7 linked regions of the Homo sapiens genome follow. The protein of the gene in region 4 purifies or fractionates together with the protein of the main gene of each other region. This does not show direct contact. Each region holds a gene or a part of one and is shown on either strand. Other genes may lie near its edges. The genes, in order: RNF20, MCM6, MCMBP, TRAIP, RFC5, VANGL2 and ZNF212.

Evidence for each region.
Region 1: the proteins of TRAIP (region 4) and RNF20 purify together in Homo sapiens (affinity purification with western blotting; one study listed by BioGRID). This does not show direct contact.
Region 2: the proteins of TRAIP (region 4) and MCM6 purify together in Homo sapiens (affinity purification with mass spectrometry, with the first as the bait; one large-scale study listed by BioGRID). This does not show direct contact.
Region 3: the proteins of TRAIP (region 4) and MCMBP purify together in Homo sapiens (affinity purification with mass spectrometry, with the first as the bait; one large-scale study listed by BioGRID). This does not show direct contact.
Region 5: the proteins of TRAIP (region 4) and RFC5 purify together in Homo sapiens (affinity purification with mass spectrometry, with the first as the bait; one large-scale study listed by BioGRID). This does not show direct contact.
Region 6: the proteins of TRAIP (region 4) and VANGL2 purify together in Homo sapiens (affinity purification with western blotting, with the first as the bait; one study listed by BioGRID). This does not show direct contact.
Region 7: the proteins of TRAIP (region 4) and ZNF212 purify together in Homo sapiens (affinity purification with western blotting, with the first as the bait; one study listed by BioGRID). This does not show direct contact.

The regions. Positions count from the first base shown.
Region 1 is NC_000009.12:101,540,353-101,543,852, reverse strand, and holds part of RNF20 (E3 ubiquitin-protein ligase BRE1A), read right to left. Parts: coding exon 3,483-3,500; intron 3,364-3,482; coding exon 3,216-3,363; intron 3,061-3,215; coding exon 2,878-3,060; intron 1-2,877. UniProt on the Homo sapiens protein: Component of the RNF20/40 E3 ubiquitin-protein ligase complex that mediates monoubiquitination of 'Lys-120' of histone H2B (H2BK120ub1).
Region 2 is NC_000002.12:135,852,444-135,855,943, forward strand, and holds part of MCM6 (DNA replication licensing factor MCM6), read right to left. Parts: intron 473-3,500; coding exon 344-472; intron 1-343. UniProt on the Homo sapiens protein: Acts as a component of the MCM2-7 complex (MCM complex) which is the replicative helicase essential for 'once per cell cycle' DNA replication initiation and elongation in eukaryotic cells.
Region 3 is NC_000010.11:119,862,844-119,866,343, forward strand, and holds part of MCMBP (mini-chromosome maintenance complex-binding protein), read right to left. Parts: intron 1-3,500. UniProt on the Homo sapiens protein: Associated component of the MCM complex that acts as a regulator of DNA replication.
Region 4 is NC_000003.12:49,850,065-49,853,564, forward strand, and holds part of TRAIP (E3 ubiquitin-protein ligase TRAIP), read right to left. Parts: intron 1-3,500. UniProt on the Homo sapiens protein: E3 ubiquitin ligase required to protect genome stability in response to replication stress.
Region 5 is NC_000012.12:118,026,703-118,029,718, reverse strand, and holds part of RFC5 (replication factor C subunit 5), read right to left. Parts: intron 2,831-3,016; coding exon 2,701-2,830; intron 1,767-2,700; coding exon 1,689-1,766; intron 1-1,688. UniProt on the Homo sapiens protein: Subunit of the replication factor C (RFC) complex which acts during elongation of primed DNA templates by DNA polymerases delta and epsilon, and is necessary for ATP-dependent loading of proliferating cell nuclear antigen (PCNA) onto primed DNA.
Region 6 is NC_000001.11:160,403,564-160,407,063, reverse strand, and holds part of VANGL2 (vang-like protein 2), read right to left. Parts: intron 3,161-3,500; exon of another isoform or gene 2,672-3,160; intron 937-2,671; exon of another isoform or gene 739-936; intron 1-738. UniProt on the Homo sapiens protein: Involved in the control of early morphogenesis and patterning of both axial midline structures and the development of neural plate. Plays a role in the regulation of planar cell polarity, particularly in the orientation of stereociliary bundles in the cochlea.
Region 7 is NC_000007.14:149,252,879-149,256,106, reverse strand, and holds the end of ZNF212 (zinc finger protein 212), read right to left. Parts: intron 2,549-3,228; coding exon 1,692-2,548; 3' UTR 501-1,691; downstream 1-500.

The sequences.
Region 1 (3,500 bases), on a different chromosome or scaffold from region 4:
GGGCAAAGCCAAAAATAAGAATATGCTCAGAAAACTCCCAAGGTTATTCTGATTCATAACCTGAGTTAAGAAGTAGAGACTGAATTTTAGTCCTCTCAATATCCTAAGCACTGAGGACAGGGCTAGAATACAATAAAATTCAATAAATGTTTAGTGAATTTATAAACAAGCCCATAAATGCAATTCTTTTGAATCAAAGACCAAACAAACAGACAGTACTGCCCTGGCAGGTTAGACAGTGCCGCCCTGGCAGGGTTAGACAGTGCCGCTCTGGCAGGTTAGACAGTGCCGCCCTGGCAGGTTAGACAGTTCCGCTCTGGCAGGGTTGGACAGTACTGCAGTGGCAGGGTTAGACAGTGCCACCCTGGCAGGGTTAGACAGTGCTGCCTTGGCAGGTTAGACAGTGCCGCCCTGGCAGAGTTAGACAGTGCCGCTCTGGCAGGTTAGACAGTGCCGCTCTGGCAGGTTAGACAGTGCCGCCCTGGCAGGGTTAGACAGTGCCGCCCTGGAAGGGTTAGACAGTGCCGCCCTGGAAGGGTTAGACAGTGCCGCCCTGGCACGGTTAGACAGTACTGCCGTGGCAGGTTAGACAGTGCCGCTCTGGCAGGGTTAGATGAATTTATAGACCTTACTCTATAAGGCCTATACTTGCTCTAGAAGGCCTTACCTTACTCTAGAAGGCCTATCATATCATAGGGGATTTTGTAAAACACAACACAACTCCAAACCTCCAAATAATGAATTACCCTAAATATAAAAGACTGTATAGTGTTATTGAGGAATGGCGTGGTAGAAATTCCACAGGGAATGGGGAAGTAGAAACTACTGTATTGATGATGTCCTAGGAATTTGAGGAATGTCAATTTTCAGTCTAAGTCAGGGGGATGAACTTTCAAACAAGTTACAACTGATGCTATAATTCATACTTTATACATCTTTATCTCTTAGAAAGTTCAGCTTACCAATGGCAATTGCCTTTTGTGTTACAAATAATGGCATGGCTATTTGTAATGTTTCTACTTTTTAACTTAAACCCGACCTTAAAATGCATGCCATTAAATAGTAATTTTAAAGTCGTTTGATATACTACTCATTTTATTCCCTTTTTAAATAAAACAATTGTTTCACTTGATATTCATTTATGAAATCAAGTTTAACATAGTCTATGCACATGGCATATTAATTACCATATTACTAAAATTTAACAATACCTTCTAACTATTCAATTAGAGCCCAAGGAGAAAGAAGCATATGTGCACACACAAAGCACCATTATTTTATATTAGGTGACAGGGAGGTTCACATCCATTCATTCCCCATTGACTAAACATCTGCTAGATGCCAGATGCAGTGCTAGAAACTAGAGAAACAAAGAAGAGTGAGCCAAACTACTGAACCAAGACACAGTTTAGCTGGGGACATGCAAGTAGATGTAAGATATTAATACAAAAGTACAAAAGTCTGAGAGGACATAAAACACATTGTTTAGAATGGTTATCTTTTGAGAAATGAGAATGGGGAAACTTTTGTAGTCTACTTATTTGTATTTCTGACTTGTATATTTTTAAACAAGTATCTGTTTTCCTTATAATAAAATACAGAAATGCATAATCTAATGGAAAAGCAAAAGAAACCCGTGACCAAATTTTCACAGGCCTTCTACAAGCTGCTTAATTCTGTTGACAACTTAGCCCAATTACCCTTAAAAGCAAAATTACAGAATAATACAATTCTTATATGCTCATCCAATGGTTCAACCTCCATTACATTCAACTTATTTCCTTCAGAAATGAAAGGTTAAACATCTTAATGATAAGCAGGGAAATTAAGATATTACAACTAGACCATGATTATTATTGAAAACATGAAATCAAGGCATTTTTTTTGCATTTGAGCAAGGTATTTATGCCACAAATGACTAAAGATGTAACCTAGCTACACAAATACTTTACTGTACAAATTTAAATTTTTGCATTAACTCTGAGTAACACAATTATCCCAAATAATTATTTTATTTCAAATACTCTTTCATCCATAGAATATTTTCTAATAATCCTTTTAACCATACAGATCATCTGTCAACTCTAAAACCTGCACCAACTCTTTTTAAAAACATTAGCGATAATGAAAAATAAGTTAAGTAAAAATTAACTTTTTCAAGTCAAAATTCTGTAACTAATAATTAAATAATATAGTTGTTATTTAAAATAAAGTATTATCACTATAAATCAATAGCCTACATACACGATAAACAGATCCAGATATTAGAGCTGTTTATTAAATAATAAAGTTAATTCTGCTATTTACAAAACTGTCATTAATAGAGTATATCAGTATAGAGCTGATAAACTCTTTCCTCAGCTTATTAAAGGACTGTCATGTGGCTCAAAATGAGAAGCACTGATAAAAGATTAATATGCCATAATGAAGACATTACCAGTAACACTGAAGGTTAGAATTTCTAAAAATTTAATTAAAATATATAGTCCAGGCACAGTGGCTCATGCCTGTAATCCTAACACTTTGGGAGGCCAGAAGAGAGGATCTCTTGAGGCCAAGTTTGAGACCAGCCTGGGCAACATAGCAAGACTTCCTCTCTACAAAAAGGTTAAAATATTAGCCAGGTGTGGTAGTACGTGCCTATAGTCCTAGCTATTCGGAAGCTGAGGCAGAAAGATTGCTTGAGTTCGAGGATTCAATGGGCTATGATGGTGCCACTGTGTTCCAGCCTGGGTGACACAGTGAAACCTTATCTCTTAAAAAGTAAATAATAAATAAATAAAAATAAATATGTAAGCTTGCAAACTACAAATTAGCATGCAAAAATGAATTCTTATTCCTCCTCCACTACTCCCGGCCTCCAGGGTCTTGCCTCACCTCCACTGTTTAGCTTCCGGGATAAGAGCTCCACTTTTTCTTGCAATTTATCATAAACAGTCACAATCTGGGACACGGCTCGGCGGGAAGACTCCACACGTTCCTGCAGCTGAGACTCCATCTCTTCACTGGAACTGCTGGCCAAAGTAGCAAGGAAAGAGAAAGCTGGCTCTTGCCCTTCCCCTGAGGACACAGGGGGAAAAAAAGAAGCCCCCCAAAATTATAAACTGGAAATAACAAAATCCATTTTTTTTCCCTCAAATGGAAAGCCTCAAAGCAGAGCTCTACTTTAAAAACCCAGATAGCATGCAGTGATAGAATCCATCACGAACACTTGCCTCTCTCTCGGTCATCTTTACGCTCCTGATTGCTATCAGAGTCTGGTTCTGGTTCAGGCACAACAAGGGCTTTTCGTTCTGTGAGTAGGTCTCCCAAGCCCTGCTCCAGATCATAACGTTTAAGGATGATACGGATGTTTTCATCAAACTGGAGAAGGGTAGGTACAATTATGAAGAAACAAAGGACACAACTTTGGAAATGAAGAGAACAGTAAGGAGAACTAAATTGGTCAAATAAAAATCTGAACAAATAAACAAGTTAGCTACCTGACTCCAGTATCGGTT
Region 2 (3,500 bases), on a different chromosome or scaffold from region 4:
AAGATTCAACTATTGATTTAGGCGCATAAACAATTTTAACGTTCTTAGTAATGTTTGAAATAAAAGAATGTTCTAGATTATCCAGTTATCCAAAACTCTTCTCCCATACAAATCTTTTTATTACCACCAAACAAATAATGGAATTATTCAGAATTTTTTTTACAGTTCCCTTTCTCAGCCCTCTCTGAAAAAACAAATTGCTGTTCCAGAAAAAAAAAAAAAGTTGTAAAATTTAGGAACTAAGGTAGATGACAGGTTCAGTTAATTTCCATATAACACACTTACTTAAATTCCACTTTAATATACCCATTATACCTTATCCCAGTACAAAAGGGTAGGTTACCTTGGGTTTAAACTGTCTTGCAAAGAGAAGATATCTTCTGATATCATCGAGGGAATAGACACGATCAATTGATTCCTCAATTCTTGAATGCAAATCTACTATGCGCCTGGCAATGGCATAATCTGTAACCTAATTCAAAACAAAAAAATCACTTTGATAGTCACAGCAATATCTTCTCCAGACTATCCCAGGCAATAAGAAATGATTTATCGCCAAAAACAAGCTCTAATATACCACTTAAAGAAGTATTAATGGGTACCAAGTTTCTGATGAAAGTTTGGGAACAGGTGGATTTAAAATCAAACGTTTAAATGTATACCATTGCCCCACTCTAAAACTATACCTGAAGGAATTGATTGGCTTTAAAAACAATAGTAGGGTAAAGTGCAGTGGCTCACACTTGTAATCCCAACACTTTGGGAGACTGATGTGAGAGAAGAGCTTGAGGTCAAGAGTTTGAGACCAGTCAGGGCGACAAACTGAGACCCTCCCTGTCTCTACAAAAAAACTAGCTGGGCATGGTGGTGCACATGTGTAATCCCAGCTACTCAGGTGGCTGAGGCAGGAGGATCACTTGAGCCCAGGAGGTTGAAGGGGCAGTGAAGCCATGATTGCACCACTGCACTCCAGCCTGGGCAACAGAGTAAGCCTTATCTCAAAAACAAAACAACAAAAATAGCAGAACTAACATTTATAGGGCCCTCAGTGTATGAGACACTGTTCTCTTAGGCAGGTCTTAGAAGAATTAACTTATGCAATCCTCACAAAAATTTTATTAGGTAAATGATATTATCCCCATTTTATACATGGGCAAATTGAGGCCTAGGAAGGTTAAGTAATTTATCCAAGGTCACAGTTAAGTAGTGGAGCCAGGATTTGAATAGTCTAGCTTCAGAGACTGTGCTCTTAGCCACTAAATTTTGAAGATATTCATCCCAGAATACTGGAAAAAAAAAAAAGACCCCAAAATATGCAACTTGCTCTCAAATGGTTCAGGAAAAAAGTGTGCAGATATATACAGACAGTAAGCAATAAAGCAAACAGGGTAAAATGTTATTATGTGAATCACGTAAAGGGTATATGGGTGTTCTATGCACTATTCCATTTCTTGCAACTTTTCTGTAAGCTTGAAATTATTTCTAATTAAGAAGTTGTCTGGGCGGAACACAGTGGCTCATGCCTGTAATCCTAGCACTTTGAGAGGCCAAGGCTGGTGGATAGCTTGAGCTCAGGAGTTCAAGACCAGTCCAGGCAACACGGCAAAACTCGGTCTCTACAAAAAATACAAAAGTTAGCTGGGCATGGGGGCCTGCACCTGTAGTTCCAGCTGCTCAGGAGGCTGAGGTGGGAGGCTGGCTTGAGCCCAGGAGGCAGAGGTTGCAGTGAACTGAGATCATGCCACTGCACTCCAGCCTGGGCAATACAGCCAGACCCTGTCTCAAAATAAATAACTAAAATAAAACAGGCTGGGCCCGGTGGCTCACGCCTGTAACCTCAGCACGTTGGGAGGCCAAGACGGGATCACCTGAGGTCAGGAGTTTGAGACCAGCCTGGCCAATAAAGTGAAACCCCGTCTCTACTAAAAATACAAAAATTAGCCGGGCATGGTGGCACACGCCTGTGATCCCAGCTACTCAGGAGGCTGAGGCAGGAGAATTACTTGAACCTGAGAGGCGGAGGTTGCAGTGAGGTGAGACGGCAGCACTGCACTCCAGCCTGGGTAACAGAGCGAGACTCCATCTCAAAAAAAAAAAAAAAAAAAAAAGAGAAAAAGAAAAAGAAAAAGAAAAAGAAAAGGCTTTTTGGCCAGGTATGGTGGCACATGCCTATAATCCCAACACTTTGGGAAGCTGAGGTGGGCAGACTGGTTGAGCTCAGGAGTTTGCAGCCAGCCTGGGCAACATGGCAAAATCCTGTTTCTACAAAAAACTCAAAAGTCAGCCAGACACAATGGTGTACATGTGTGGTCCCAGCTACTCGGGAGGCTGAGGTGGGAGGATTGTGTTAGCCCAGGAGGCTGAGGCTGCAGTGAGCCATGATCACGCCACTGCAGGAAAGAGTGGGACCCTGTCTCAAAAACAAAACAAGCCGGGCGCGGTGGCTCACACCTGTAATCCCAACACTTTGGGAGGCTGAGGTCGGTGGATCAACTGAGGTCAGGTGTTTGAGACCAGCCTGGCCAACATGGTGAAACCCTGTCTCTAGTAAAAATACACAAAATTAGCCAGGCGTGGTGGCACACGCCTATAATCCCAGCTACTCAGGAGGCTGAGGCAGAAGAATCACTTGAACCTAGGAGGCGGAGGTTGCAGTGAGCCAAGATTGTGCCACTGCAGTCCAGTCTGGGCAACAGAGTGAGACTCCGTCACAAAACAAAACAAAACTAAAGAAAACAGTTTTAAAAAAATCTTGAATGTTTTAAAGGTTTATAAATTGATCTTTTAAAGGTTTATAACTTGATCTGCTACTAAAGCTACTTTAATGAATCATGAACAAACATAAATGTATGAAAATCAGACAACTCAATTATCTGGTAATTAAATATGTCTCTCTTGTGAAGGGAAAAAAAGTGAACCAAACCAAACCAAACCAAACCAAACCAGGTGTGATGGTGCAGGCCTACAATCTTAGCTATTCAGGAGGCTGAGGTGGTAAGGTGGTTTGAGGCCAAGAGTTCAAGACCAACACGGGTCTTGAACTTGTTGCCGTTGCTACAAAAGGATGAAAAAATTAACCAGGCATGGTGGTACAGAGCTGTAGTCTCAGCTACTTGGGAGGCTGAGGCAGGAGGATCACTGGAACCCAGGAGATTGAGGCTGCAGTGAGCTATGACTGTGGCACTGCCTGGGTGACAGAGTAAGACTTTGTCTTTAAAAAATAAATAAATAAAAATCCAAGCCCTCCAAACACTCACAAAATGGAAGGCTACTTTTATTTAGATAATATTTAAAGTTCCACTGTAACAAAGAGCTGTGCACTGTACCCAATAAAATGTAGAACCTCAATGCTGAATGATTTAAAAAGTACAGCCTAAAATATTAGTTCCTACAAACTGTCATTTTATAGTTCTGTGGGCATCTGAAGTGCATTATTAAATATTTAAGTACACATAACTCTAATAATTAAACTAACATATCAGAATCCAAGTAAATCTACA
Region 3 (3,500 bases), on a different chromosome or scaffold from region 4:
ATTTTAGCTGTTCTAATATGCAATATCATGGCTTAAATTTGCATTTCCCTAATGGCTAACAATGCTGAACTCTTCTCAGGGGGATATTTGCCATCCTTGTATCCTATCTGGTGAAATGTCTATTTAAGCCTACTTAAATCTTTTGCCCCTTTTAAAATTGAGTTTTTAAATTACTGCTGTGTTTTCTTATATATTCTGGATTCAAGTTCTTTTTCTGATACCGGATTTTCAAATATATTCTCCCAGTGTATAGCTTGTCTTTTCATGCTCCTAATAGAATTTTTTTTTACAGAACAAAGGTTTTTAATTTTGATGAAGCCCAATTTATCAAATTTTTGTTTTACGCACTGTGCCTTCGGTGTCATGTCTTAAGAACTCATTGCCAAACCCCAGGTCACAAAGATCTGTTTTCTTCTAAAAGTTTTATAGTTTCAGGTTTTATACTCAGATGTATGATCCATTTTGAGTTAATTTTATATAAAATATGAGGTAAAGGTTGAGGATTTTATTTTTCCATGTAAATGTTAAATTGTTCATGTCTTTGATGAAAAGAATATCCTTTTTCCATTTGAATTAGCTTTTGTATCTTTATTAAAATGCAGCGAGGGCCAGGCGGGGTGGCTCACGCCTGTAATCCCAGCACTTTGGGAGGCCGAGGCGGGCGGATCACCTGTCAGGAGTTCAAGACCAGCCTGGCCAACATGGCAAACCCCCGTCTCTACTAAAAATACAAAAATTAGCCGGGCGTGGTGGCACACGCCTGTAATCCCAGCTACTCGGGAGGGTGAGACAGGAGAATTGCTTGAACCCAGGAGGCGGAGGTTTCAGTGAGCTGAGATCGCACCACTGCACTCCAGCCTGGGAGACAGAGTGAGGCTCAGACTCAAAAAAAAAAAAAAAAAAAAAAAAAAAAAAAAAAAAAAGCAACGAAGACACAGGAATAAACCTTGAAAACATTATGCTAAGTGAGATAAGCCAGACGTAAAAGGTGAAATATTATTCTACTTGGGTGAGTTTGGATAGTTTGTGGCTGTGATCAGCAGAATAATGACCCCCTCCCACCCAACCAAGATACTGATGTTCTAATCCCCAGAACTTGTAAAGATATGTTACATAGGAATTAAGGTAGCAGATGGAATTAAGGTTAATAATCAGTTGAACTTAAAAAAAAAAACAATCTGGGTGGGTTCAATGTAATCACAACGGTCCTTAAATGTGGAAGGATGTGGCAAAAGAGGAAGTTAGAGTAAGATGTGAGAACAACTCGACTTGTTGTCTTTGAAAACGGAAGGGGGCCACAAGCCAAGAAATGTGGGCAGACTCTAGATGCAGGAAAAGAAAAGGAACAGATTCTCTCCTAAAGCCTCCACAATGGAATGCAAGTCCTGTCAACAATTTGATTTTATCCCAGTAAGACCCATGTCAGACTTCTGTCTCCAGGACTGTAAATAAAAACCTTTTGTTTTAAAGTCACTACATTTGTAATTTATTACAGGAGAAATAGAAAGCTAATACAGTGGTTTTTGAGGAACTGGTCCATTTCATCTAAGTTGATGAATTTCTATCTGTAGAGCTGTTTGTATTATCCTTTTCATGCCTGTACAGTCTACGGTGGTTATCTCCTCTTTCTTTTCTAATATTGGTAATTTGTCTTCCTTTTTTTCTTTTCTACTATTGGTAATTTGTTTTCCTTTTTTTTTTTCCTTTGCCAGTATGGCTAGAGGTTTACAATTTTATTGATTTTTTTTTTAAAGAGCTTTGAGTTTCACTGATTTTTTCTTTTTTTTCTGTTTTCTATTTCATGGATTTTTGTTCTCTATTATTTCTTTCTTCTGTTTAATTTGGGTTTATTTTGCTCTTCATTTCTAGTTTCATAGGTGGAAGCTTAAATTATTCACTTGAGACCTTCTCTTCTAATTAAGGCAGCTAATGCATCTAAGCATGTCTTTGGCTGTATCCCACAAATTTTGGTATGTTGAGTTTTCATTTTGGTTTAGTTCACAATATTCAAAGCTTTCCTTTGAGAGTTTTTAATCCATGGATTGTTTAGAAGTGTTCTTCTTATATATAAAGTTTACTATTTGGTTTATGACCCAGAATGTGGTTTATCTTGGTGAATTTACATGTGCACTTGAAAAGAATGTGTATTCTGCTGTCATTAGGTAAACAAATGTCAATTAGATCTACTTGGTTGACAGTGTTGTGTAGTTTTGTGTTGTTCAGTATTCTTTTTGATTTTCTACCCACTATTCTGTCAAGTACTGAGAGAGGAGTAGTAAAATATCTAACTACAATTGCAGATTTGCCTATTTCTTCTTTTATTTCTGCTGGTTTTTGCATCATACATTTTGAAGCTCTGTTGCTTGGTGCATATATAGTTAGGTCTTCTTGGTGAACTGACTGTTTTAACATTATATAATGTGCCTCTTGTTCTCTTCTCACACAACCTTTCTTAAAAACATTTTAGGCCAGGCGTAGTGGCTTATGCCCGTAATCCCAGCACTTAGGGAGGCCAAGGCAGGCAGATTACCTGAGATCAGTAGTTTGAGACCAGCCTGGCCAACATGGTGAAACCTCATCTCTACTAAAAATACAAAAGTTAGCTGGGCTTGCTGGTGGTACCTGTAATCCCAGCTACTTGGGAGGCTGAGGCAGGAGAATTGCTTGAACCTGGGAAGTAAAATGGTGCAGCCACTGTGGAAAAGTTTGGCAATTCCTCAAAAAGTTAAATATAAAATTATCATATGACCTTGCAATTCCATCCCTAGGTATATCTGGGAAAGAACCAAAAAGCTTACATTCACACAAAAACTTGTACATGAATGTTTATAGTAGCAGTATTTATAACAGCCAGGAAATAACCTAAGTGTCCATCAGCAAATATATGGATAAACAAAATGCAGTATAGACATACAATGGAATGTTATTTTCAGCCATAAAAAGGAATGCAGACTGGGTACAGTGGCTCACATCTGTAATCCCAGCACTTTGGGAGGCCGAGGCGGGAGGGTCACTTGAGGCCAGGAGTTTGAGTGTAGCCTGGGCAACATAGTGAGACCCCAAATCTACAAAAAATGATTTAAAAATTAGCTGGGTGTGGTAATACAGGTAATACATGCCTGTAGTCCCAGCTACTCAGGAAGCTGAGGCTGCAGGATCACTTGAGACTGGAAGTTCAAGGCTGCGGTGAACCATGATCTTGCCACACAGCATTCCAGCCTGGACGACAGAGCCAGGCTCTATCTCTTAAAAAAAAAAAAAAAAGGAATGCAGTACTGATGCATACTATGACATGGATGAACCATGAAAATATCATGGTAAATGAAAAGAAGCCAGACCTCAAAGGCCACATGTTGTATAATTCCACCTACACGAAACGTCCAGAATAGGTAAATCCATGGGCAGAAGTATAGTTGTTGCCAGAGATGGAAGACAGAAGAAATGGGAGAGACTACTAAAGGTATGGGGTTTCTTTTTGGAGTGATGAAAATGATAGGGGT
Region 4 (3,500 bases):
AGGCGCAGTGGAATACTACACAGCAAGAATAAATGAGTCTACAGCTAAGAACAATATTATGAATAAATCACAAAAACATAACACTGAGGAAGAGAAGCCAGATACAAAAAGTTATATTTTGTATGATTCTATTTACACAGTTTAAAAGTAGGCAGGCCAGGCCCAGTGGCTCACGTCTGTAATCCCAGCACTTTGGGAGGTCGAGGCGGGTGGATCATCAGGTCAGAAGTTTGAGACCAGCCTGACCAACATGGTGAAACCCCGTCTCTACTAAAAATAGAAAAATTAGCCGGGTGTGGTGGCGCACGCCTGTAATCCCAGCTACTTGGGAGACTAAGGCAGAAGAATCGTTTGAACCTGGGAGGTGGAGGTTGCAGTGAGCCGAGATCACGCCACTGCACTCCAGCGTGAGGGACATAGTGAGACTCTGTCTCAAAAAAAAAAAAAGTAGGCAAAATTCATCTATGCTCTCAAAGTCAAGACAGTAGCTATCTTAATATGGGGAGGTGGAGGGAGGTGTTGGTAGGGGTTGGAAGAGCATATAAGGAGGTTTCTAGAAGGTTTCTAGAGCTGATAATAGTCTGCATTTTTTTTTTTTTTTTTTTTTTGAGACAGAGTCTTGCTCTGTCAGCCAGGCTGGAGTTCAGTGGCACGATCTCGGCTCACTGCAACCTCCACCTCCCAGGTTCAAGCAATTCTCCTGCCTCAGCCTCCCGAGTAGCTGGGGTTACGGGTGCACGCCACCATGCCCAGCTCATTTTTATATTTTTTTAGTAGAGACAGGGTTTCACCATGTTGGCCAGGCTGCTCTCAAACTCCTGATCCACCCGCCTCGGACTCCCAAAATGCTGGGATTACAGGCATGAGCCACCATGCCCGGCCAATAGCCTGCGTTTTCCTGTTTTCTTTTTTTTTTTTGGTGGGGGGACTTTCGAGACAGGGTCTCACTCTGTCACCCAGGCTGGAATGCAGTAAAGCAATCATGGCTCACAGCTGACTCTACCTCCCAGGCTCAGGTGATGATCACCTCAGCATCCTGGGTAGCTGGGACCACAGGCACATGCCACTATGCTCGGCTAATTTTCTGTGTTTTTAGTAGAGATTTCATCATGTTGCTCAGGCTGTTCTAGAACTTCTGGGCTCAAGCAATCTGCCTACCTCAGCCTCCCAAAGTGCTGGGATCACAGGCGTGAATCAACACGCCCAGCCATACCCTGTTTCTTGATCTGAATTCTGGCTGCATAGATATGTTCAATTTGTAAACATTCTGTAAGCCATATACTTAGAATATGTGTACTTTTCTGAACTATATTATACTTCAATTTTAAAATGTTCTTTTTTTGAAATGGGGTCTCACTCTGTCATCCAGGCTGGAGTGCAGCAGCACAATCATGAGTCACTGCAGCCTCAACCTCCCAGGCTCAAGCGATCCTCCTGCCTCAGCCTTGCAAGTAGTTGGGACTGCAGGCACAGGCCATCATGCCCAGGTAATTTATATTTTTTTCACTTTTTTGTAGAGATGGGGTGTCACTGTGTTGCCCAGACTGGTCTTGGACCCCTGGGCTCAAGCAATCCAGCCACCTCCCAAAGTGCTGGGATTAAAGGGGTGAGCCATCATGCCTAGCCAAAAAAACACTTTTTTTTTTTTTTAAGACTGAGTCTCGCTCTGTCACCCAGGCGGGAGTGCAGTGGTGCAATCTCGGCTCACTGCAACCTCCACCTCCTGAGTTCAAGCGATTCTCCTGCCTCAGCCTTCCAAGTAGCTGGGACTAGAGGCGCCCGCCACCATGCCCGGCTAATTTTTTTGTATTTTTAGTAAAGACGGGGTTTCACCATGTTAGCCAGGATGGTCTCGATCTCCTGACCTCGTGATCCACCAGCCTCGGCCTCCCAAAGTGCTGGGATTACAGTTGTGAGCCACCGCGCCCAGCCAAAAAAACATTTTTTTAAGTAAACAGGTACACAAGAAAAAAAAGCACTATGAAAACAAACCAGAAGAAATGCCCACAAAGACTTTAGGTAGGCCAGGTGCAGTGGCTCACGCCTGTAATCCCAGCACTTTGGGAGGCCGAGGCGGGCAGATCACGAGGTCAGGAGTTCAAGACCAGCCTGGCCAACATGGTGAAACCCCGTCTCTACTAAAAATACAAAAATTAGCCAGGCACGGTGGCGAGCGCCTGTAATCCCAGCTACTCGGGAGGTTGACGCAGGAGAATTGCTTGAACCCAGGAGGTGGAGGTTGCAGTGAGCCGAGATCGGACCATTGCACTCCAGCCTGGGTGACAGAGCGAGACTCTACCTCAAAAATAAATAATAACACAGGATAAAAAAGTTAATGGAATAGAGGCAATATATGAAGAGATAATGGCTGATAATTTTCCAGAACTGATTAAAGAAATTGCTCCACACGGCCAGGCGCGGTGGCTCACGCCTGTAATCCCAGCACTTTGGGAGGCCGAGGCAGGCAGATCATGAGGTCAGGAGATCAAGACCATCCTGACTAACACAGTGAAACCCCATCTCTACTAAAAATACAAAAAATTAGCTGGGCATGGTGGCAGGCGCCTGTAGTCCCAGCTACTCGGGAGGCTGAGGCAGGAGAATGGCGTGAACCCGGGAGGCAGAGCTTGCAGTGAGCCAAGATCGTGCCACTGCACTCCAGCCTGGGTGACACAGCGAGACTCCGTCTCAAAAAAAAAAGAAAGAAAGAAAGAAATTGCTCTACACGTTAAAGAAATCTAATGAATCCCGAGCAGAATTTGTAAAAAGAAATTCGGCCAGGCACAATGGCTCATGGCTGTAATCCCGGCACTTTGGGAGACCAAGGTGGGAAGATCACCTGAGGTCAGGAGTTCGAGACCAGCCTGGCCAACATGGTGAAACCCTGTCTCTGCTACAAGTACAAAATTTAGCCGGGCATGATGACACGTGCCTTTAGTCCCAGCTACTCGGGAGGCTGAGGCAGGAGAATTGCTTGAACCAGGGAGGTGGAGGTTGCAGTGAGTTGAGATTGTCCCACTGTGCTCCAGCCTGGGCAACAGAGCAAGACTCTGTCTCAAAAAAAAAAAAAAGAAAAGAAAAAGGTAAAAAGAAATTCATATTGGATACACTATACCAAAACTGCAGAAAGCCAAAATCAGAGAAAATTCTAAAGGTAATGAGAGTCTGAGGATAAAGTTCCAAAGTATGCTTAAAGGAGTAACTGATAAACTAAAATCTGACTTCAATAGCTACAACGGAAGCTAGAAGTTGGATAAGGGCCGAGTGTGGTGGCTCACACCTGTATTCCCAGCACTTTGGAAGGCCAAGGCAGGAGGATTGCTTTAGGCCAGGAGTTTGAGACCAGCCTGGCTAACATAGCGAGACCTTGTCTCTAAAAACAATAATAAAATAAAATAAAATAAAACAGATGAAAAAAGATATACCATGCAGTCACCAAAAGACAGCTGAAGTGGCTATACTAATAGCAGATAAAATGGACTTTAAATTAGACAAGATAG
Region 5 (3,016 bases), on a different chromosome or scaffold from region 4:
CCCACAGAGGACAAATGAGTTTCAACATGAAATCCTTAACACTGAACTAGTCCTGAGGCCTCAGCCTGCTCACTAGATACCAGACCTCTAAGAAAGTAGAAACAGTGCTGGTTTCATACTTTTTACCCACTCGATTTTGTGCTTTATAGGGTAGACAAAAAGGAAAATGAGCAGATACCAAAGTGATCCTAAGAGCACCAAAGATCACACTGCTCTTAGCAGCTGGGTAGCTCTACAAGTTAACTTGAATGCTGAGTTCCCACTTGCTGTTTTTATTTTATATTTTACTTTATTTTGAGACGGGGTCTCACTGTCTTGCCCAGGCTGGAGTGCCATGGCATGGCGTGATCATGACTCACTGCAGCCTTGACCTCTTGGGCTTGAGGGATCTTCCACCTCAAGACCCTTGAGTAACTGGGGCTACAGGTGTGCGCCACCTTGCCTGGCTGTTTTGTACTTTTTGTAGAGATGCGGTTTCACCGTGTTGCCCAGGCTGGTCTCAAACTCCTGGGCTCAAGTGATCCACCCATTTTGACTTCCCAAAGTGTTGGGATTACAGGCGTCAGCCACTATACCGATCCTGTCCCCATTTAAAAACCAAGCACAAACAACTGATTTTTTAAAGTTGGTTTATGCTCAGCTTCCACAATCAAGGTGCAGAGCTGGGCCTGAGCCAACCATACCTTGGGCAGAAGGCATGGCATGGGCCAGCCAGGAAGAGGCCTGTGAAGGCCTGGGCAGAACCAACATTCATTGACCCGGTTAAGTCTCCATCTTGCAGTTGGCCACTGTGGAAGGAAGAGCTTCTCCGAAAGCCTACACAAGTCACCTGGGGAGCTTAGAGAATACGGATGCCTGGTTGTCCTCCGAGAAGCTGACTTAATTTGTCTGGAGTGCCCCTATCTGCTGCCAAGGTTGAGAACCAATTCTCTGTGTAGAAGGTACAGGCAAGTGTGGAACTTAAGATGTTTTCCTTAAGCCTGCTTTGGTTTACATGGTTTACATATCTTCTCTTTCTTTTCTGGGAATATATATCTAGATAGACAGATAGATAGACAGACTTTTTTTTTTTTTTTAGAAATGTGAATTAATATATACTACTTACTGCTATAAAATATAAACCCCTAGAGGAAATAAAGTTAGCCTCCAGGAGTTTTCACTTTCCCCAGCAGTTCTAGATATTAAAAGAGGGTTTATGGAACACGTTTTTTGTGTTTTGTTTTGTTTTTTTTTTTGAGACAAACTCTAGCTCTGTCGCCCAGGCTGGAGTGCAGTGGCAAATCTTGGCTCACTGCAACCTCCACCTCCCAGGTTCAAATGATTCTCCCACCTCAGCCTCCCACGTAGCTGGGATTACAGGCGTGCGCCACCATGCCAGGCTAATTTTTTGTATTTTTAGTAGAGACGGGGTTTCACCATGTTGCCCAGGCTGGTCTTCAACTCCTGACCTCAGGTGATCTGCCTGCTTTGGCCTCCCAAAGTGCTAGGATTACAGGCTTGAGCCACCGTACCCAGCTCTGGAACAAAATTTTAAACAGTGGCAAGACAGAACTGCTAACAAGAAGGGTCTGATTTACAATTCATTAGTTTCTTTGCTTCAAGAATGAAGCCTCCTGTCCTAACCATCCTTAACCCCAAAGCAGGCTACCTTCTCCACAGCTTCTCAGCTGGGGGATAATGTAAGTTACCTCTATGCACAAACAAGTGTATCTCTGTCAGGATATCATGCAGTGCCAACCCCTTCAGAGTTTTCAACTCTGTAATATCTAGAGGAGCAGTTAAGGCAAAGGGAACAAGTTCCAGAACAAACATACTGCAGAGAATTTTGAATCCAAACCCGGGCAAGAGACTTTTTAAAGTAAGGCTTTTAATCCCAACACAACTGTTTCTCTTTCAACTTGAAGCTGCACGTGTTGGACTCCAATTCTTTATTTTTCTTTGTTTCATCTTCAGTAAGGGCTTTCTGAAAGATAGAGTTGTAACTCCTTCTAGTAGAGAATAAAGCCAACTGCGTTTTCTTTTTCTTTCTTTCTTTTTTTTTTTTTTTAAGATGGAATCTCCCTCTGTCACCCAGGCTAGAGTACAGTGGCATGACCTCGGCTCACTGCAACCTCTGCCTCCCGGGTTCAAGCAATTCTCATGCCTCAGCCTCCCGAGTAGCTGGAACTACAGGCACCCACCACCACGCCCGGCTAATTTTTGTATTTTTAGTAGAGACGGGGTTTCGCCATGTTGGCCAGGCTGGTCTTGAACTCCTGACCTCAAGTGATCTACCGCCTCAGCCTCCAAAAGTGCTGGGATTATAGGCATGAGCCACCACACCCAGCCCCAAATGCATTTCCAAAAAGGCTTTGTGTCACCATTCCTAGCCTTTCATTTCACAGCACAAGAGCTATCACTATCATGACCACTTGAAAATTCCTGCATCTTCAATGCCAAGGCCTAAGCTTTTCTCCCATCTGTGAGTGAAGCTGCTTCAAGCCTTACCCTGACTTGAAGGTCAGAGCCCTCCAAGAAGAACTCTGGAGTGCTAAAGACAAGTACCCACTCCACCTACAGACATCTCACTCCCACAACAAGCTGACCAGAGTCGCCTGCAGCCAGTCATCCTTTGCCAGCAAGGTGTGGGTGCTGGCTGCAACCTGAACTCCTGGGGCCACCTTCAGGTCTCGGTGGCCAGGAGGTCATGAGAAAGGATACTTCTGTAGGCTGTGGTGAAATCTTGATTCAACATCCAGTCCAGGATGTTGGCAATGTCTGACTTGAGCGGGTGCCCGGTGCAGGTGTAGACAGTCTCCTCTGTCACCTTCCCAAAGGCCATATTGGTGCTCTGTGTAGACAGAGGGGGAAAGGGGAGATCACAGTGGCTGTCACAGCTGCCACCAAGCTGCAGGGAGCCAAGAAGAAATTGCCAAGGCAGCAATGCAGGTGAGCAGCAAAGTTCTATGGGCACAAGGCAGTGGGAACCCACATATTCAATACCGGAAGAGTCACCTCATCAGAGGATGCCACAGCC
Region 6 (3,500 bases), on a different chromosome or scaffold from region 4:
CTAAACCCTACTTACCCTAAAAAACCAGACCCCCTGGGCCGGGCGTGGTGGCTCACGCCTGTGATCCCAGCACTTAGGGAGGCCGAGGCAGGTAGATCACCTGAGGTCAGGAGTTCCAGACCAGCCTGACCAACATGGTGAAACCCCGCCTCTCCAAAAAATGCAAAATTAGCCAGGCATGGTGGTGCATGCCTGTAATCCCAGCTATTCGGGAGGCTGAGGCAGGAGAATCACTCGAACCAGGGAGGCAGAGGTTGTAGTGAGCCAAGATCGCGCCATTGCACTCCAGCCTAGTCAACGAGCGAAACGGTTTCAAAAAAAAAAAAACCAGAACCCCCTCCCTAGACCCACAAACAAACACACCCTCTCTCTCTGACCAGGCTGAGGGAGCCAAGAACACTCTGGTGAAAACAGGAGTCTGAAGGACATTGTTAGGGGCTGTGAGAAAACCCTACAGACAATAAGGACCAGGCTCCTCCCATTCACAAACAAGACCCCACGGGCCATGGTGGCCGGAGCCTACAGTCACTCCTTTACCCCAACCCCCATCCAAAATCATGGCCCAGCAAGGAGAAAGAGACCCACCCCAGGAGAGGTTTCTGCCCAGATGCTGGCCCCGCCCCAGGCTTATGACACCAAGGTGCTCCTCCTGGAGATGAGATCGTTCTCTGACTCCCACCCTCAAGGGTAGGCTTCTCTACTCCTCAGGCTGACACTGGACTCATGTTTGCTTTTCAGAAAACAGGGGAATTACTCAAGTGCAAGATTAAAGGCAATAATGAGCAATCAGACCGAACTGGAATGACAGTAGGGGAAGGTGAAGAGACTTTGGGAAAAGGAAGAGCACTGAAGTCAGACCTGGCACAGCCTTTTACGAGCTATGTAATCTCAGGTGAGTCGCTCCCCTTTTCCAAACTTCAGTTTCCTTATCTATAAAATGGCAATAATAGTGCCTACTTCAGAAGGTTAAGAGTTTTCAGCAAAATAATGTATGCAGAATATTACAGATTCTGGCACACAATAGATGCTTAAAAAAATGTTAGTTCCCACCTTTTCTCCTTTAGTGGGTCCACAGCGAATCCCCTCCACTTCCTGCTCCCATAACCTCACTGTAAGGAGAAACACCCCAAAATAAGATGGAACCACCTCTAGGTGCAGGGTTGTCCCTGTTCTAAATTAGACCACATCCAGGTACTGCCTGAGAGAGCAACCAACATGCCTCTTCCTCCTCTCTGCTTCTTTCTTCAGAGGCCCTTGGATCCCCCACCTTTCCTCCTCTCCTTCCTCCTTCCTCACTTACAGTAAAGCAGACCTGGGTTCCAATCACCTCCCACTCTCCTCTAGGCTCTAAGCCCAGCTGTGTGTGGAGCGGCAGGGGAAGGAGGCCCCAAGCCTCCCACCCTACCCAGCCCCCAGCTTCATCCCACTCTCCCCTCTCCCTGCCCCACCCTGATTACCAGGATATCCTCAGGTCTGCTGATTCCAAGCCTGCTTCTCTCAAACCAGTTCCCAGCTGTTATGTCTATAATTACCAATCTTGCCAGGGGCATCCGACAAAGCACAGCAAAACCTCATTTCCAAAGGGCCCCACCATAAAGGGCCTCTGCCTCCTACTCTGTACCAAGCAGGGTAGAGACAAGGAATGCAAACATTCTCCCTGGCCCACCACAGTTCTATCCAGACTACAACAGAGAAGGTGAGAGAGGGCTGCCCAAGCCACATCACCAAGAGACAGGATAAAGAAGGGGAGGGCCGCCGTAGGGTAGAATGTGAGTAGGACTTAGTCCCAGGCCTTTCCTTCACCTCTGCTGCCAAAATCTCATCATGCACAGGGTTACCCACCTGTGGAAGGTAAAAGGGAAAATTTCAGGTCAATTCAGAGAGAGGGGAAGCTGATGTCAAGTGAACAGGGAGATGGCTCCCCACAAGGATGAGGGTTGATGCATACAGGAGTGAGCTGCCCAGGAAAGAGGAGGAAAGAGCAAGTTTTAAAAGTCCCATCCCCAGCCCAGACCCTGAGAAGAGGCAATAATACCCTAGCCTCTCTTCTCCCCTAATACCTCCAACTCTACCAAGCCCATAGCACAAGCAGGAAAGGGATGATTAACTTTGTTTTATAGACAGAGAAACTGAGGCCAAATCCCCACTTCATACTGCAAGGTACAGGACTACCAAATACCCTGTGTGCCTTCTTGCTCACGCTCAGCCTCCACCAGGAGTGCCATCCTAAGACCCTTCCTGTTGGCCTAACTCATCCTTTAACCAGGTAAAGTCTGTCCACACAAGGGAATAATATTCAGCTATAAAAGGGAATGAAGTACTAATACATGCTACATGCTACCGTGTGGATTAACCTGGAAAACATTATGTTAAGCGAAGGAAGCCAGATTCAAAAGGTCATGCATTCTATCATTCCATTTGTATGAAATATCCAGAATAGGTACATCCATAGAGACAGGATGCAAATTGGTGGTTGCCAGGGGCTGGGGTAAGGGGAAATGGCGACAATTGTGTAATGGGTATGGGTTTTGTTTCGGGATGGTGCAAATGTTTGGGGACTAGACAGAGGTGGTTGTTGCACAGCACTGTGAATGTACTAAATGCCACTGTTCACTTTAAAATGGTTTATTTCCTATTATGTGAATTTCACCTTAATTTTTTTAAAATCCAGCTAACAGGGCATCTCCTGCAGGAACCTTCCCTGGCACCTCACCCCAGGGCCAAGCACTCTTCCTCTATGCTCCAGTGGCCTCCTGAACACACCTCCACACAGCACTCACTGGGCTGCAGTGAATCAACATGTTTTCACATGTCTCCCCTGGGAAAACATCTTATTTGCCCCTCCATCCCCTGTGCTTCACACTGTGCCTGGCAGATAGGAGAGAGTGCCTAATGTGGTCGGCCAAAGGAAGATCAGAACCAAAGCCTAGTTCTCCTATCCCGACTCCGACCTCTCTCCCTTAATGATGATTATCCCTCAGAATCCGAACCATCCAGCTAACATTTACTATGTGCCAGGAACTGTGCAACGTGCTTTCTCTATTATTTCATTTAATCCTCATAACCCCAAGAAGTAGGGCCTATTATTAATTCCATTTTACAGGTGAGGCTTCAAAAAGTTACCAGTTTTGTCTGATGTCACGGAATTAGACAGTGGCAAAGCCAGAATTTAAAAGCAAACCAGGGAAGAAAGCCACTTGGTGGGGGACCAGGGATTCCTTGTGGAAGGGCTCAGTCTAGGCTTGGAGGATGTGCCTTAAGACACCTAAGAGGCTGGGGAATGGGGTTTATTACTTGCCCAGATCACACCACTGTTAAGTACTAATTCCAACCAACTCTGACTCCTTTCTCTGGCCTCACAATGTGATGAACACTTGAGGGAAGGAGAAGACTGGAGTTCCCTAAAACTCAGAGGGGATCAGATCTCTTCCTTTTCCCTGCCAAAGCTTCTGTTAGTCAAGTTCCCTCCCCATTAACTGGAAGGACCTGGAAACCAGATG
Region 7 (3,228 bases), on a different chromosome or scaffold from region 4:
CTTCTACTTATTTGCTCGCTCTCCCCGTGGAAAACTGTAATGTCTTTTAACGGGTCTCCTTTGGTCCCAAGTGTTCTTACAAAATGTTTTGTGTACATGCATTTTTAATTTATATAAATGGTGTTACATTATAGATCTCAATTTCTTACCTTTTCCCCTCGGCATTGTGTTTAAGATGGATCCAGATGGCTACGCATATATCTAAGCCAATGCTCGTAACAGCTACCTGGCACTCCCTGGGGTACCCACATTTCACCTACTCTTTCTACCTCCCAATAGCCATCACCCAGACTGTCTCCAGCTCTCCACCATCATAAGTACAGTCCCCTGAAAATTTTCACCCATGCCACATCTTGTCTTCTGTCCTAGGTTTAAGTAAAAGTGCAGGTTAGGCTGTGCCATCAGTCCTTCCCTGTCATCACTCCAGGTCAGGTGCCTCTCCTCCACCTTGGCCCCAGGAGAGTGTTCTTGACAAACGGAGAAAAACATCCAGTATGAACTTTTTTTTTTTCTTTTGCTAGTAGCAAGTTTTATTCTAAGCAACCGCAAATCATCCAAGGGGATGTTCACATATGACCCCAGAGCCCACTCCCATCCCCCCAGACAGCAGCGGGGCACACATTCAACACTCCTGAGACAAGCCATCTGTGTGCTTTTTCTGTACCCTCTCTGGAATAGGCAATCCCAGAATGCATTTGGAAACTGTAATCCGAACCACCTCAAGTAAGGATTGGTGTAATAGGAACAAACTCAAATAACCACTGGTACAAGGTGAACAACCTTAAGTAACAAAGTAGTTTTCTACTCTGGGAGGCTGCAGAACATAGCCAGGAGGAGGTGGGAAGAGGAGAGGGGTATGCCGAGACACCGCAAGTCCCAGACCACAGCCATACCATCAGCAACTTCACTGGAATCTTTCTTCTCAACAGGGCTGCAGGGTCTACCCCTCCGACTCTTTTCCTCTTGGTCCTTTTGAGACAATTTGAGAGCACCAGGCACTGCACGAGGGAACCTAGCACCGTGTCCCCTGCTCTCCGGCCTAAGTAAGCATCAGTGGGCTAAAAGAGCCCCATTAACAACTCCCTCCTAGAGGGTAGGTCCAGTCCCCAAGTTAGGAACAACTTCTACAACTCTTAAAATGTAAAAAACAAGTGTTGGGCTGTATTCTTTAAAAAATCAACTAAAATCTAATTCCAAAAAAGGTTCTTCAGAGCAGGGCTAAGCAGTTCATTTAAATTATTTCTTCTACTTATTATTAAACAAAGAGATTATAAAACAAGAAAAAATGGAGGGTTATACTTCCCAGAACTCTTCCAGGCAGCTGCTCACCCCTATGGCCCGACTCAACCCCGTGGGAAGACATGAAATGCCGGGACGAGCCCTGGAACCAGCCACCAGTCCCTGTGGGGTCAGAACGCCAACCCCAGCCCACAAGCATTGGCATGAATGAGAAAACCAGAGACCTGAAGGTGCCAAGAAACAGCAAACTTGGCAGCAGGATGAAGACCTGGCCTGGACTCTTCTTCCACAGGGTTTTCAGGACAGCCTTTGGGCTTGGCTTGGTACTGGGACAAGGGAAGGCAATCACAAACAACTGCCCTCAGGAAGAACTCAGTCCCTGACTGCAGTGTCTCTTCGGGGGAACCAATGCCACCCCCCTCCATCCCCCAGACGGGCGAGGGGCTGCACCCTTAAAGCAGGCCATTGGGCCTTCCGGGCTCCAGGGCCAGCCCACCCCGCTCCCGCTGGTGGATCTTCTGGTGCTGCAGGAGGTGCTGCTTCTGGACAAAGCTCTTCTCACACTCAGTGCAGCTGTAGGGCCGCTCACCCGTGTGGATGCGCTGGTGCCGCACCAAGTCAGATGGGTGACTGAAGCTCTTGCCACAGTAACCACAGATGAGGGAACTCCGGCTTTTCCTCCAAGGGATGTGGCCAGGCAGGGCAACCAGGCTGTTGGGTGAGAACCTCTCTTGGACATGCTGGCCGGCACTGGGCCCCTCCTGCAGGTGGCAACGCTGATGGGTCACCAGGCTCACCTTGCAGCTGAAGCTCCTCAGGCACACATCACACTGATGCAGCTTGGCCTTTTTGGTCTGTGGTTTCAGCCGTGGCCTGGGCCTAAGGCTCTCCTCTGGCTCCTCAGGTGTACAAGACCCCCACCCAGAGTGGCTGCGCAGATGTGTGGCCAGCTGCTGCTTATAGCGGAAGGTGATCTCACACTCAGAACATTCGTAGGGGCGGGAAGTGTCCTTTTTCAGCTTCAGGCCCTGCCCACATTCCTGGTCCAGCTGTACCTGCCTATGAGATTTCTGCTTCGGGCAGCCCACAGTTCTGCTGCTGCTAGGAACTCTACTACCAACAGGCTCCTCTAGAGTAGAGTCCCCAGGACCTGTTTCCAAGAGGACAGAACTGCCCTGACCACCCCAGAGTTCGGTCTGCTCTGGGCTCAGGAAAGCCTGCTCTTCAGCAATGCATGAGAACTCTCCAGGAAGATCCGCAGGGCCTTCCTGTGTATACTGTAGCTCCTGTTTGATCATGACCCCACCTGCTGCAAAGTGGAAGAAGACCAACAAAAAAGATCACATTCTAGTACCTTTGGTTTCTTCAGGACCAAACAAACATCTGTGAATTTCAGAAGCACCCCAGGAATAAGTGAATTAGGATAACGTGGAGGAGGATGACACTGGCTAGGTTCCAAGACTTCTATAAAACTATATTCATGTACAGTTTTTCCAATGTTGATTGGAAATATAAATGTATTACTCTTATAAAACAATACTGTAAATGATAGTTCTCCAAGCTTGTCTACAAATTTATATTTAATCCCTGTGAAAAATGACAGAATACACTGTAACAACTATACTCAATTAAGAGTGTTAAAATAACAAATTTGAATGATTAAAGACAAACTAAACCTACAGCTTAAGAATTCATGTCCAGCTCTGTTCTTCCTCCATAACCTCCCAAATTACCTACTGACAAGTGCTTTTCCTGCACTGCCTTCCCTCCTGAAGCTCTGACATACCTACGCTCAATCTCCAGCAGGTTTTGACTACCGCCTCGTACGGTACTCTATTCTGTAGGGCATGAAGAATAATGATTGATGTGGCCGTTAGTCTTAAAGACCCCACAGGGTGGTAGGAGTTGAGGCATATGTAACAGCTGAACTAACGACAATCATAAAGGAGTCCAGAACAAGCAGATGCCAGATGAGGTCACCAAGTCAGC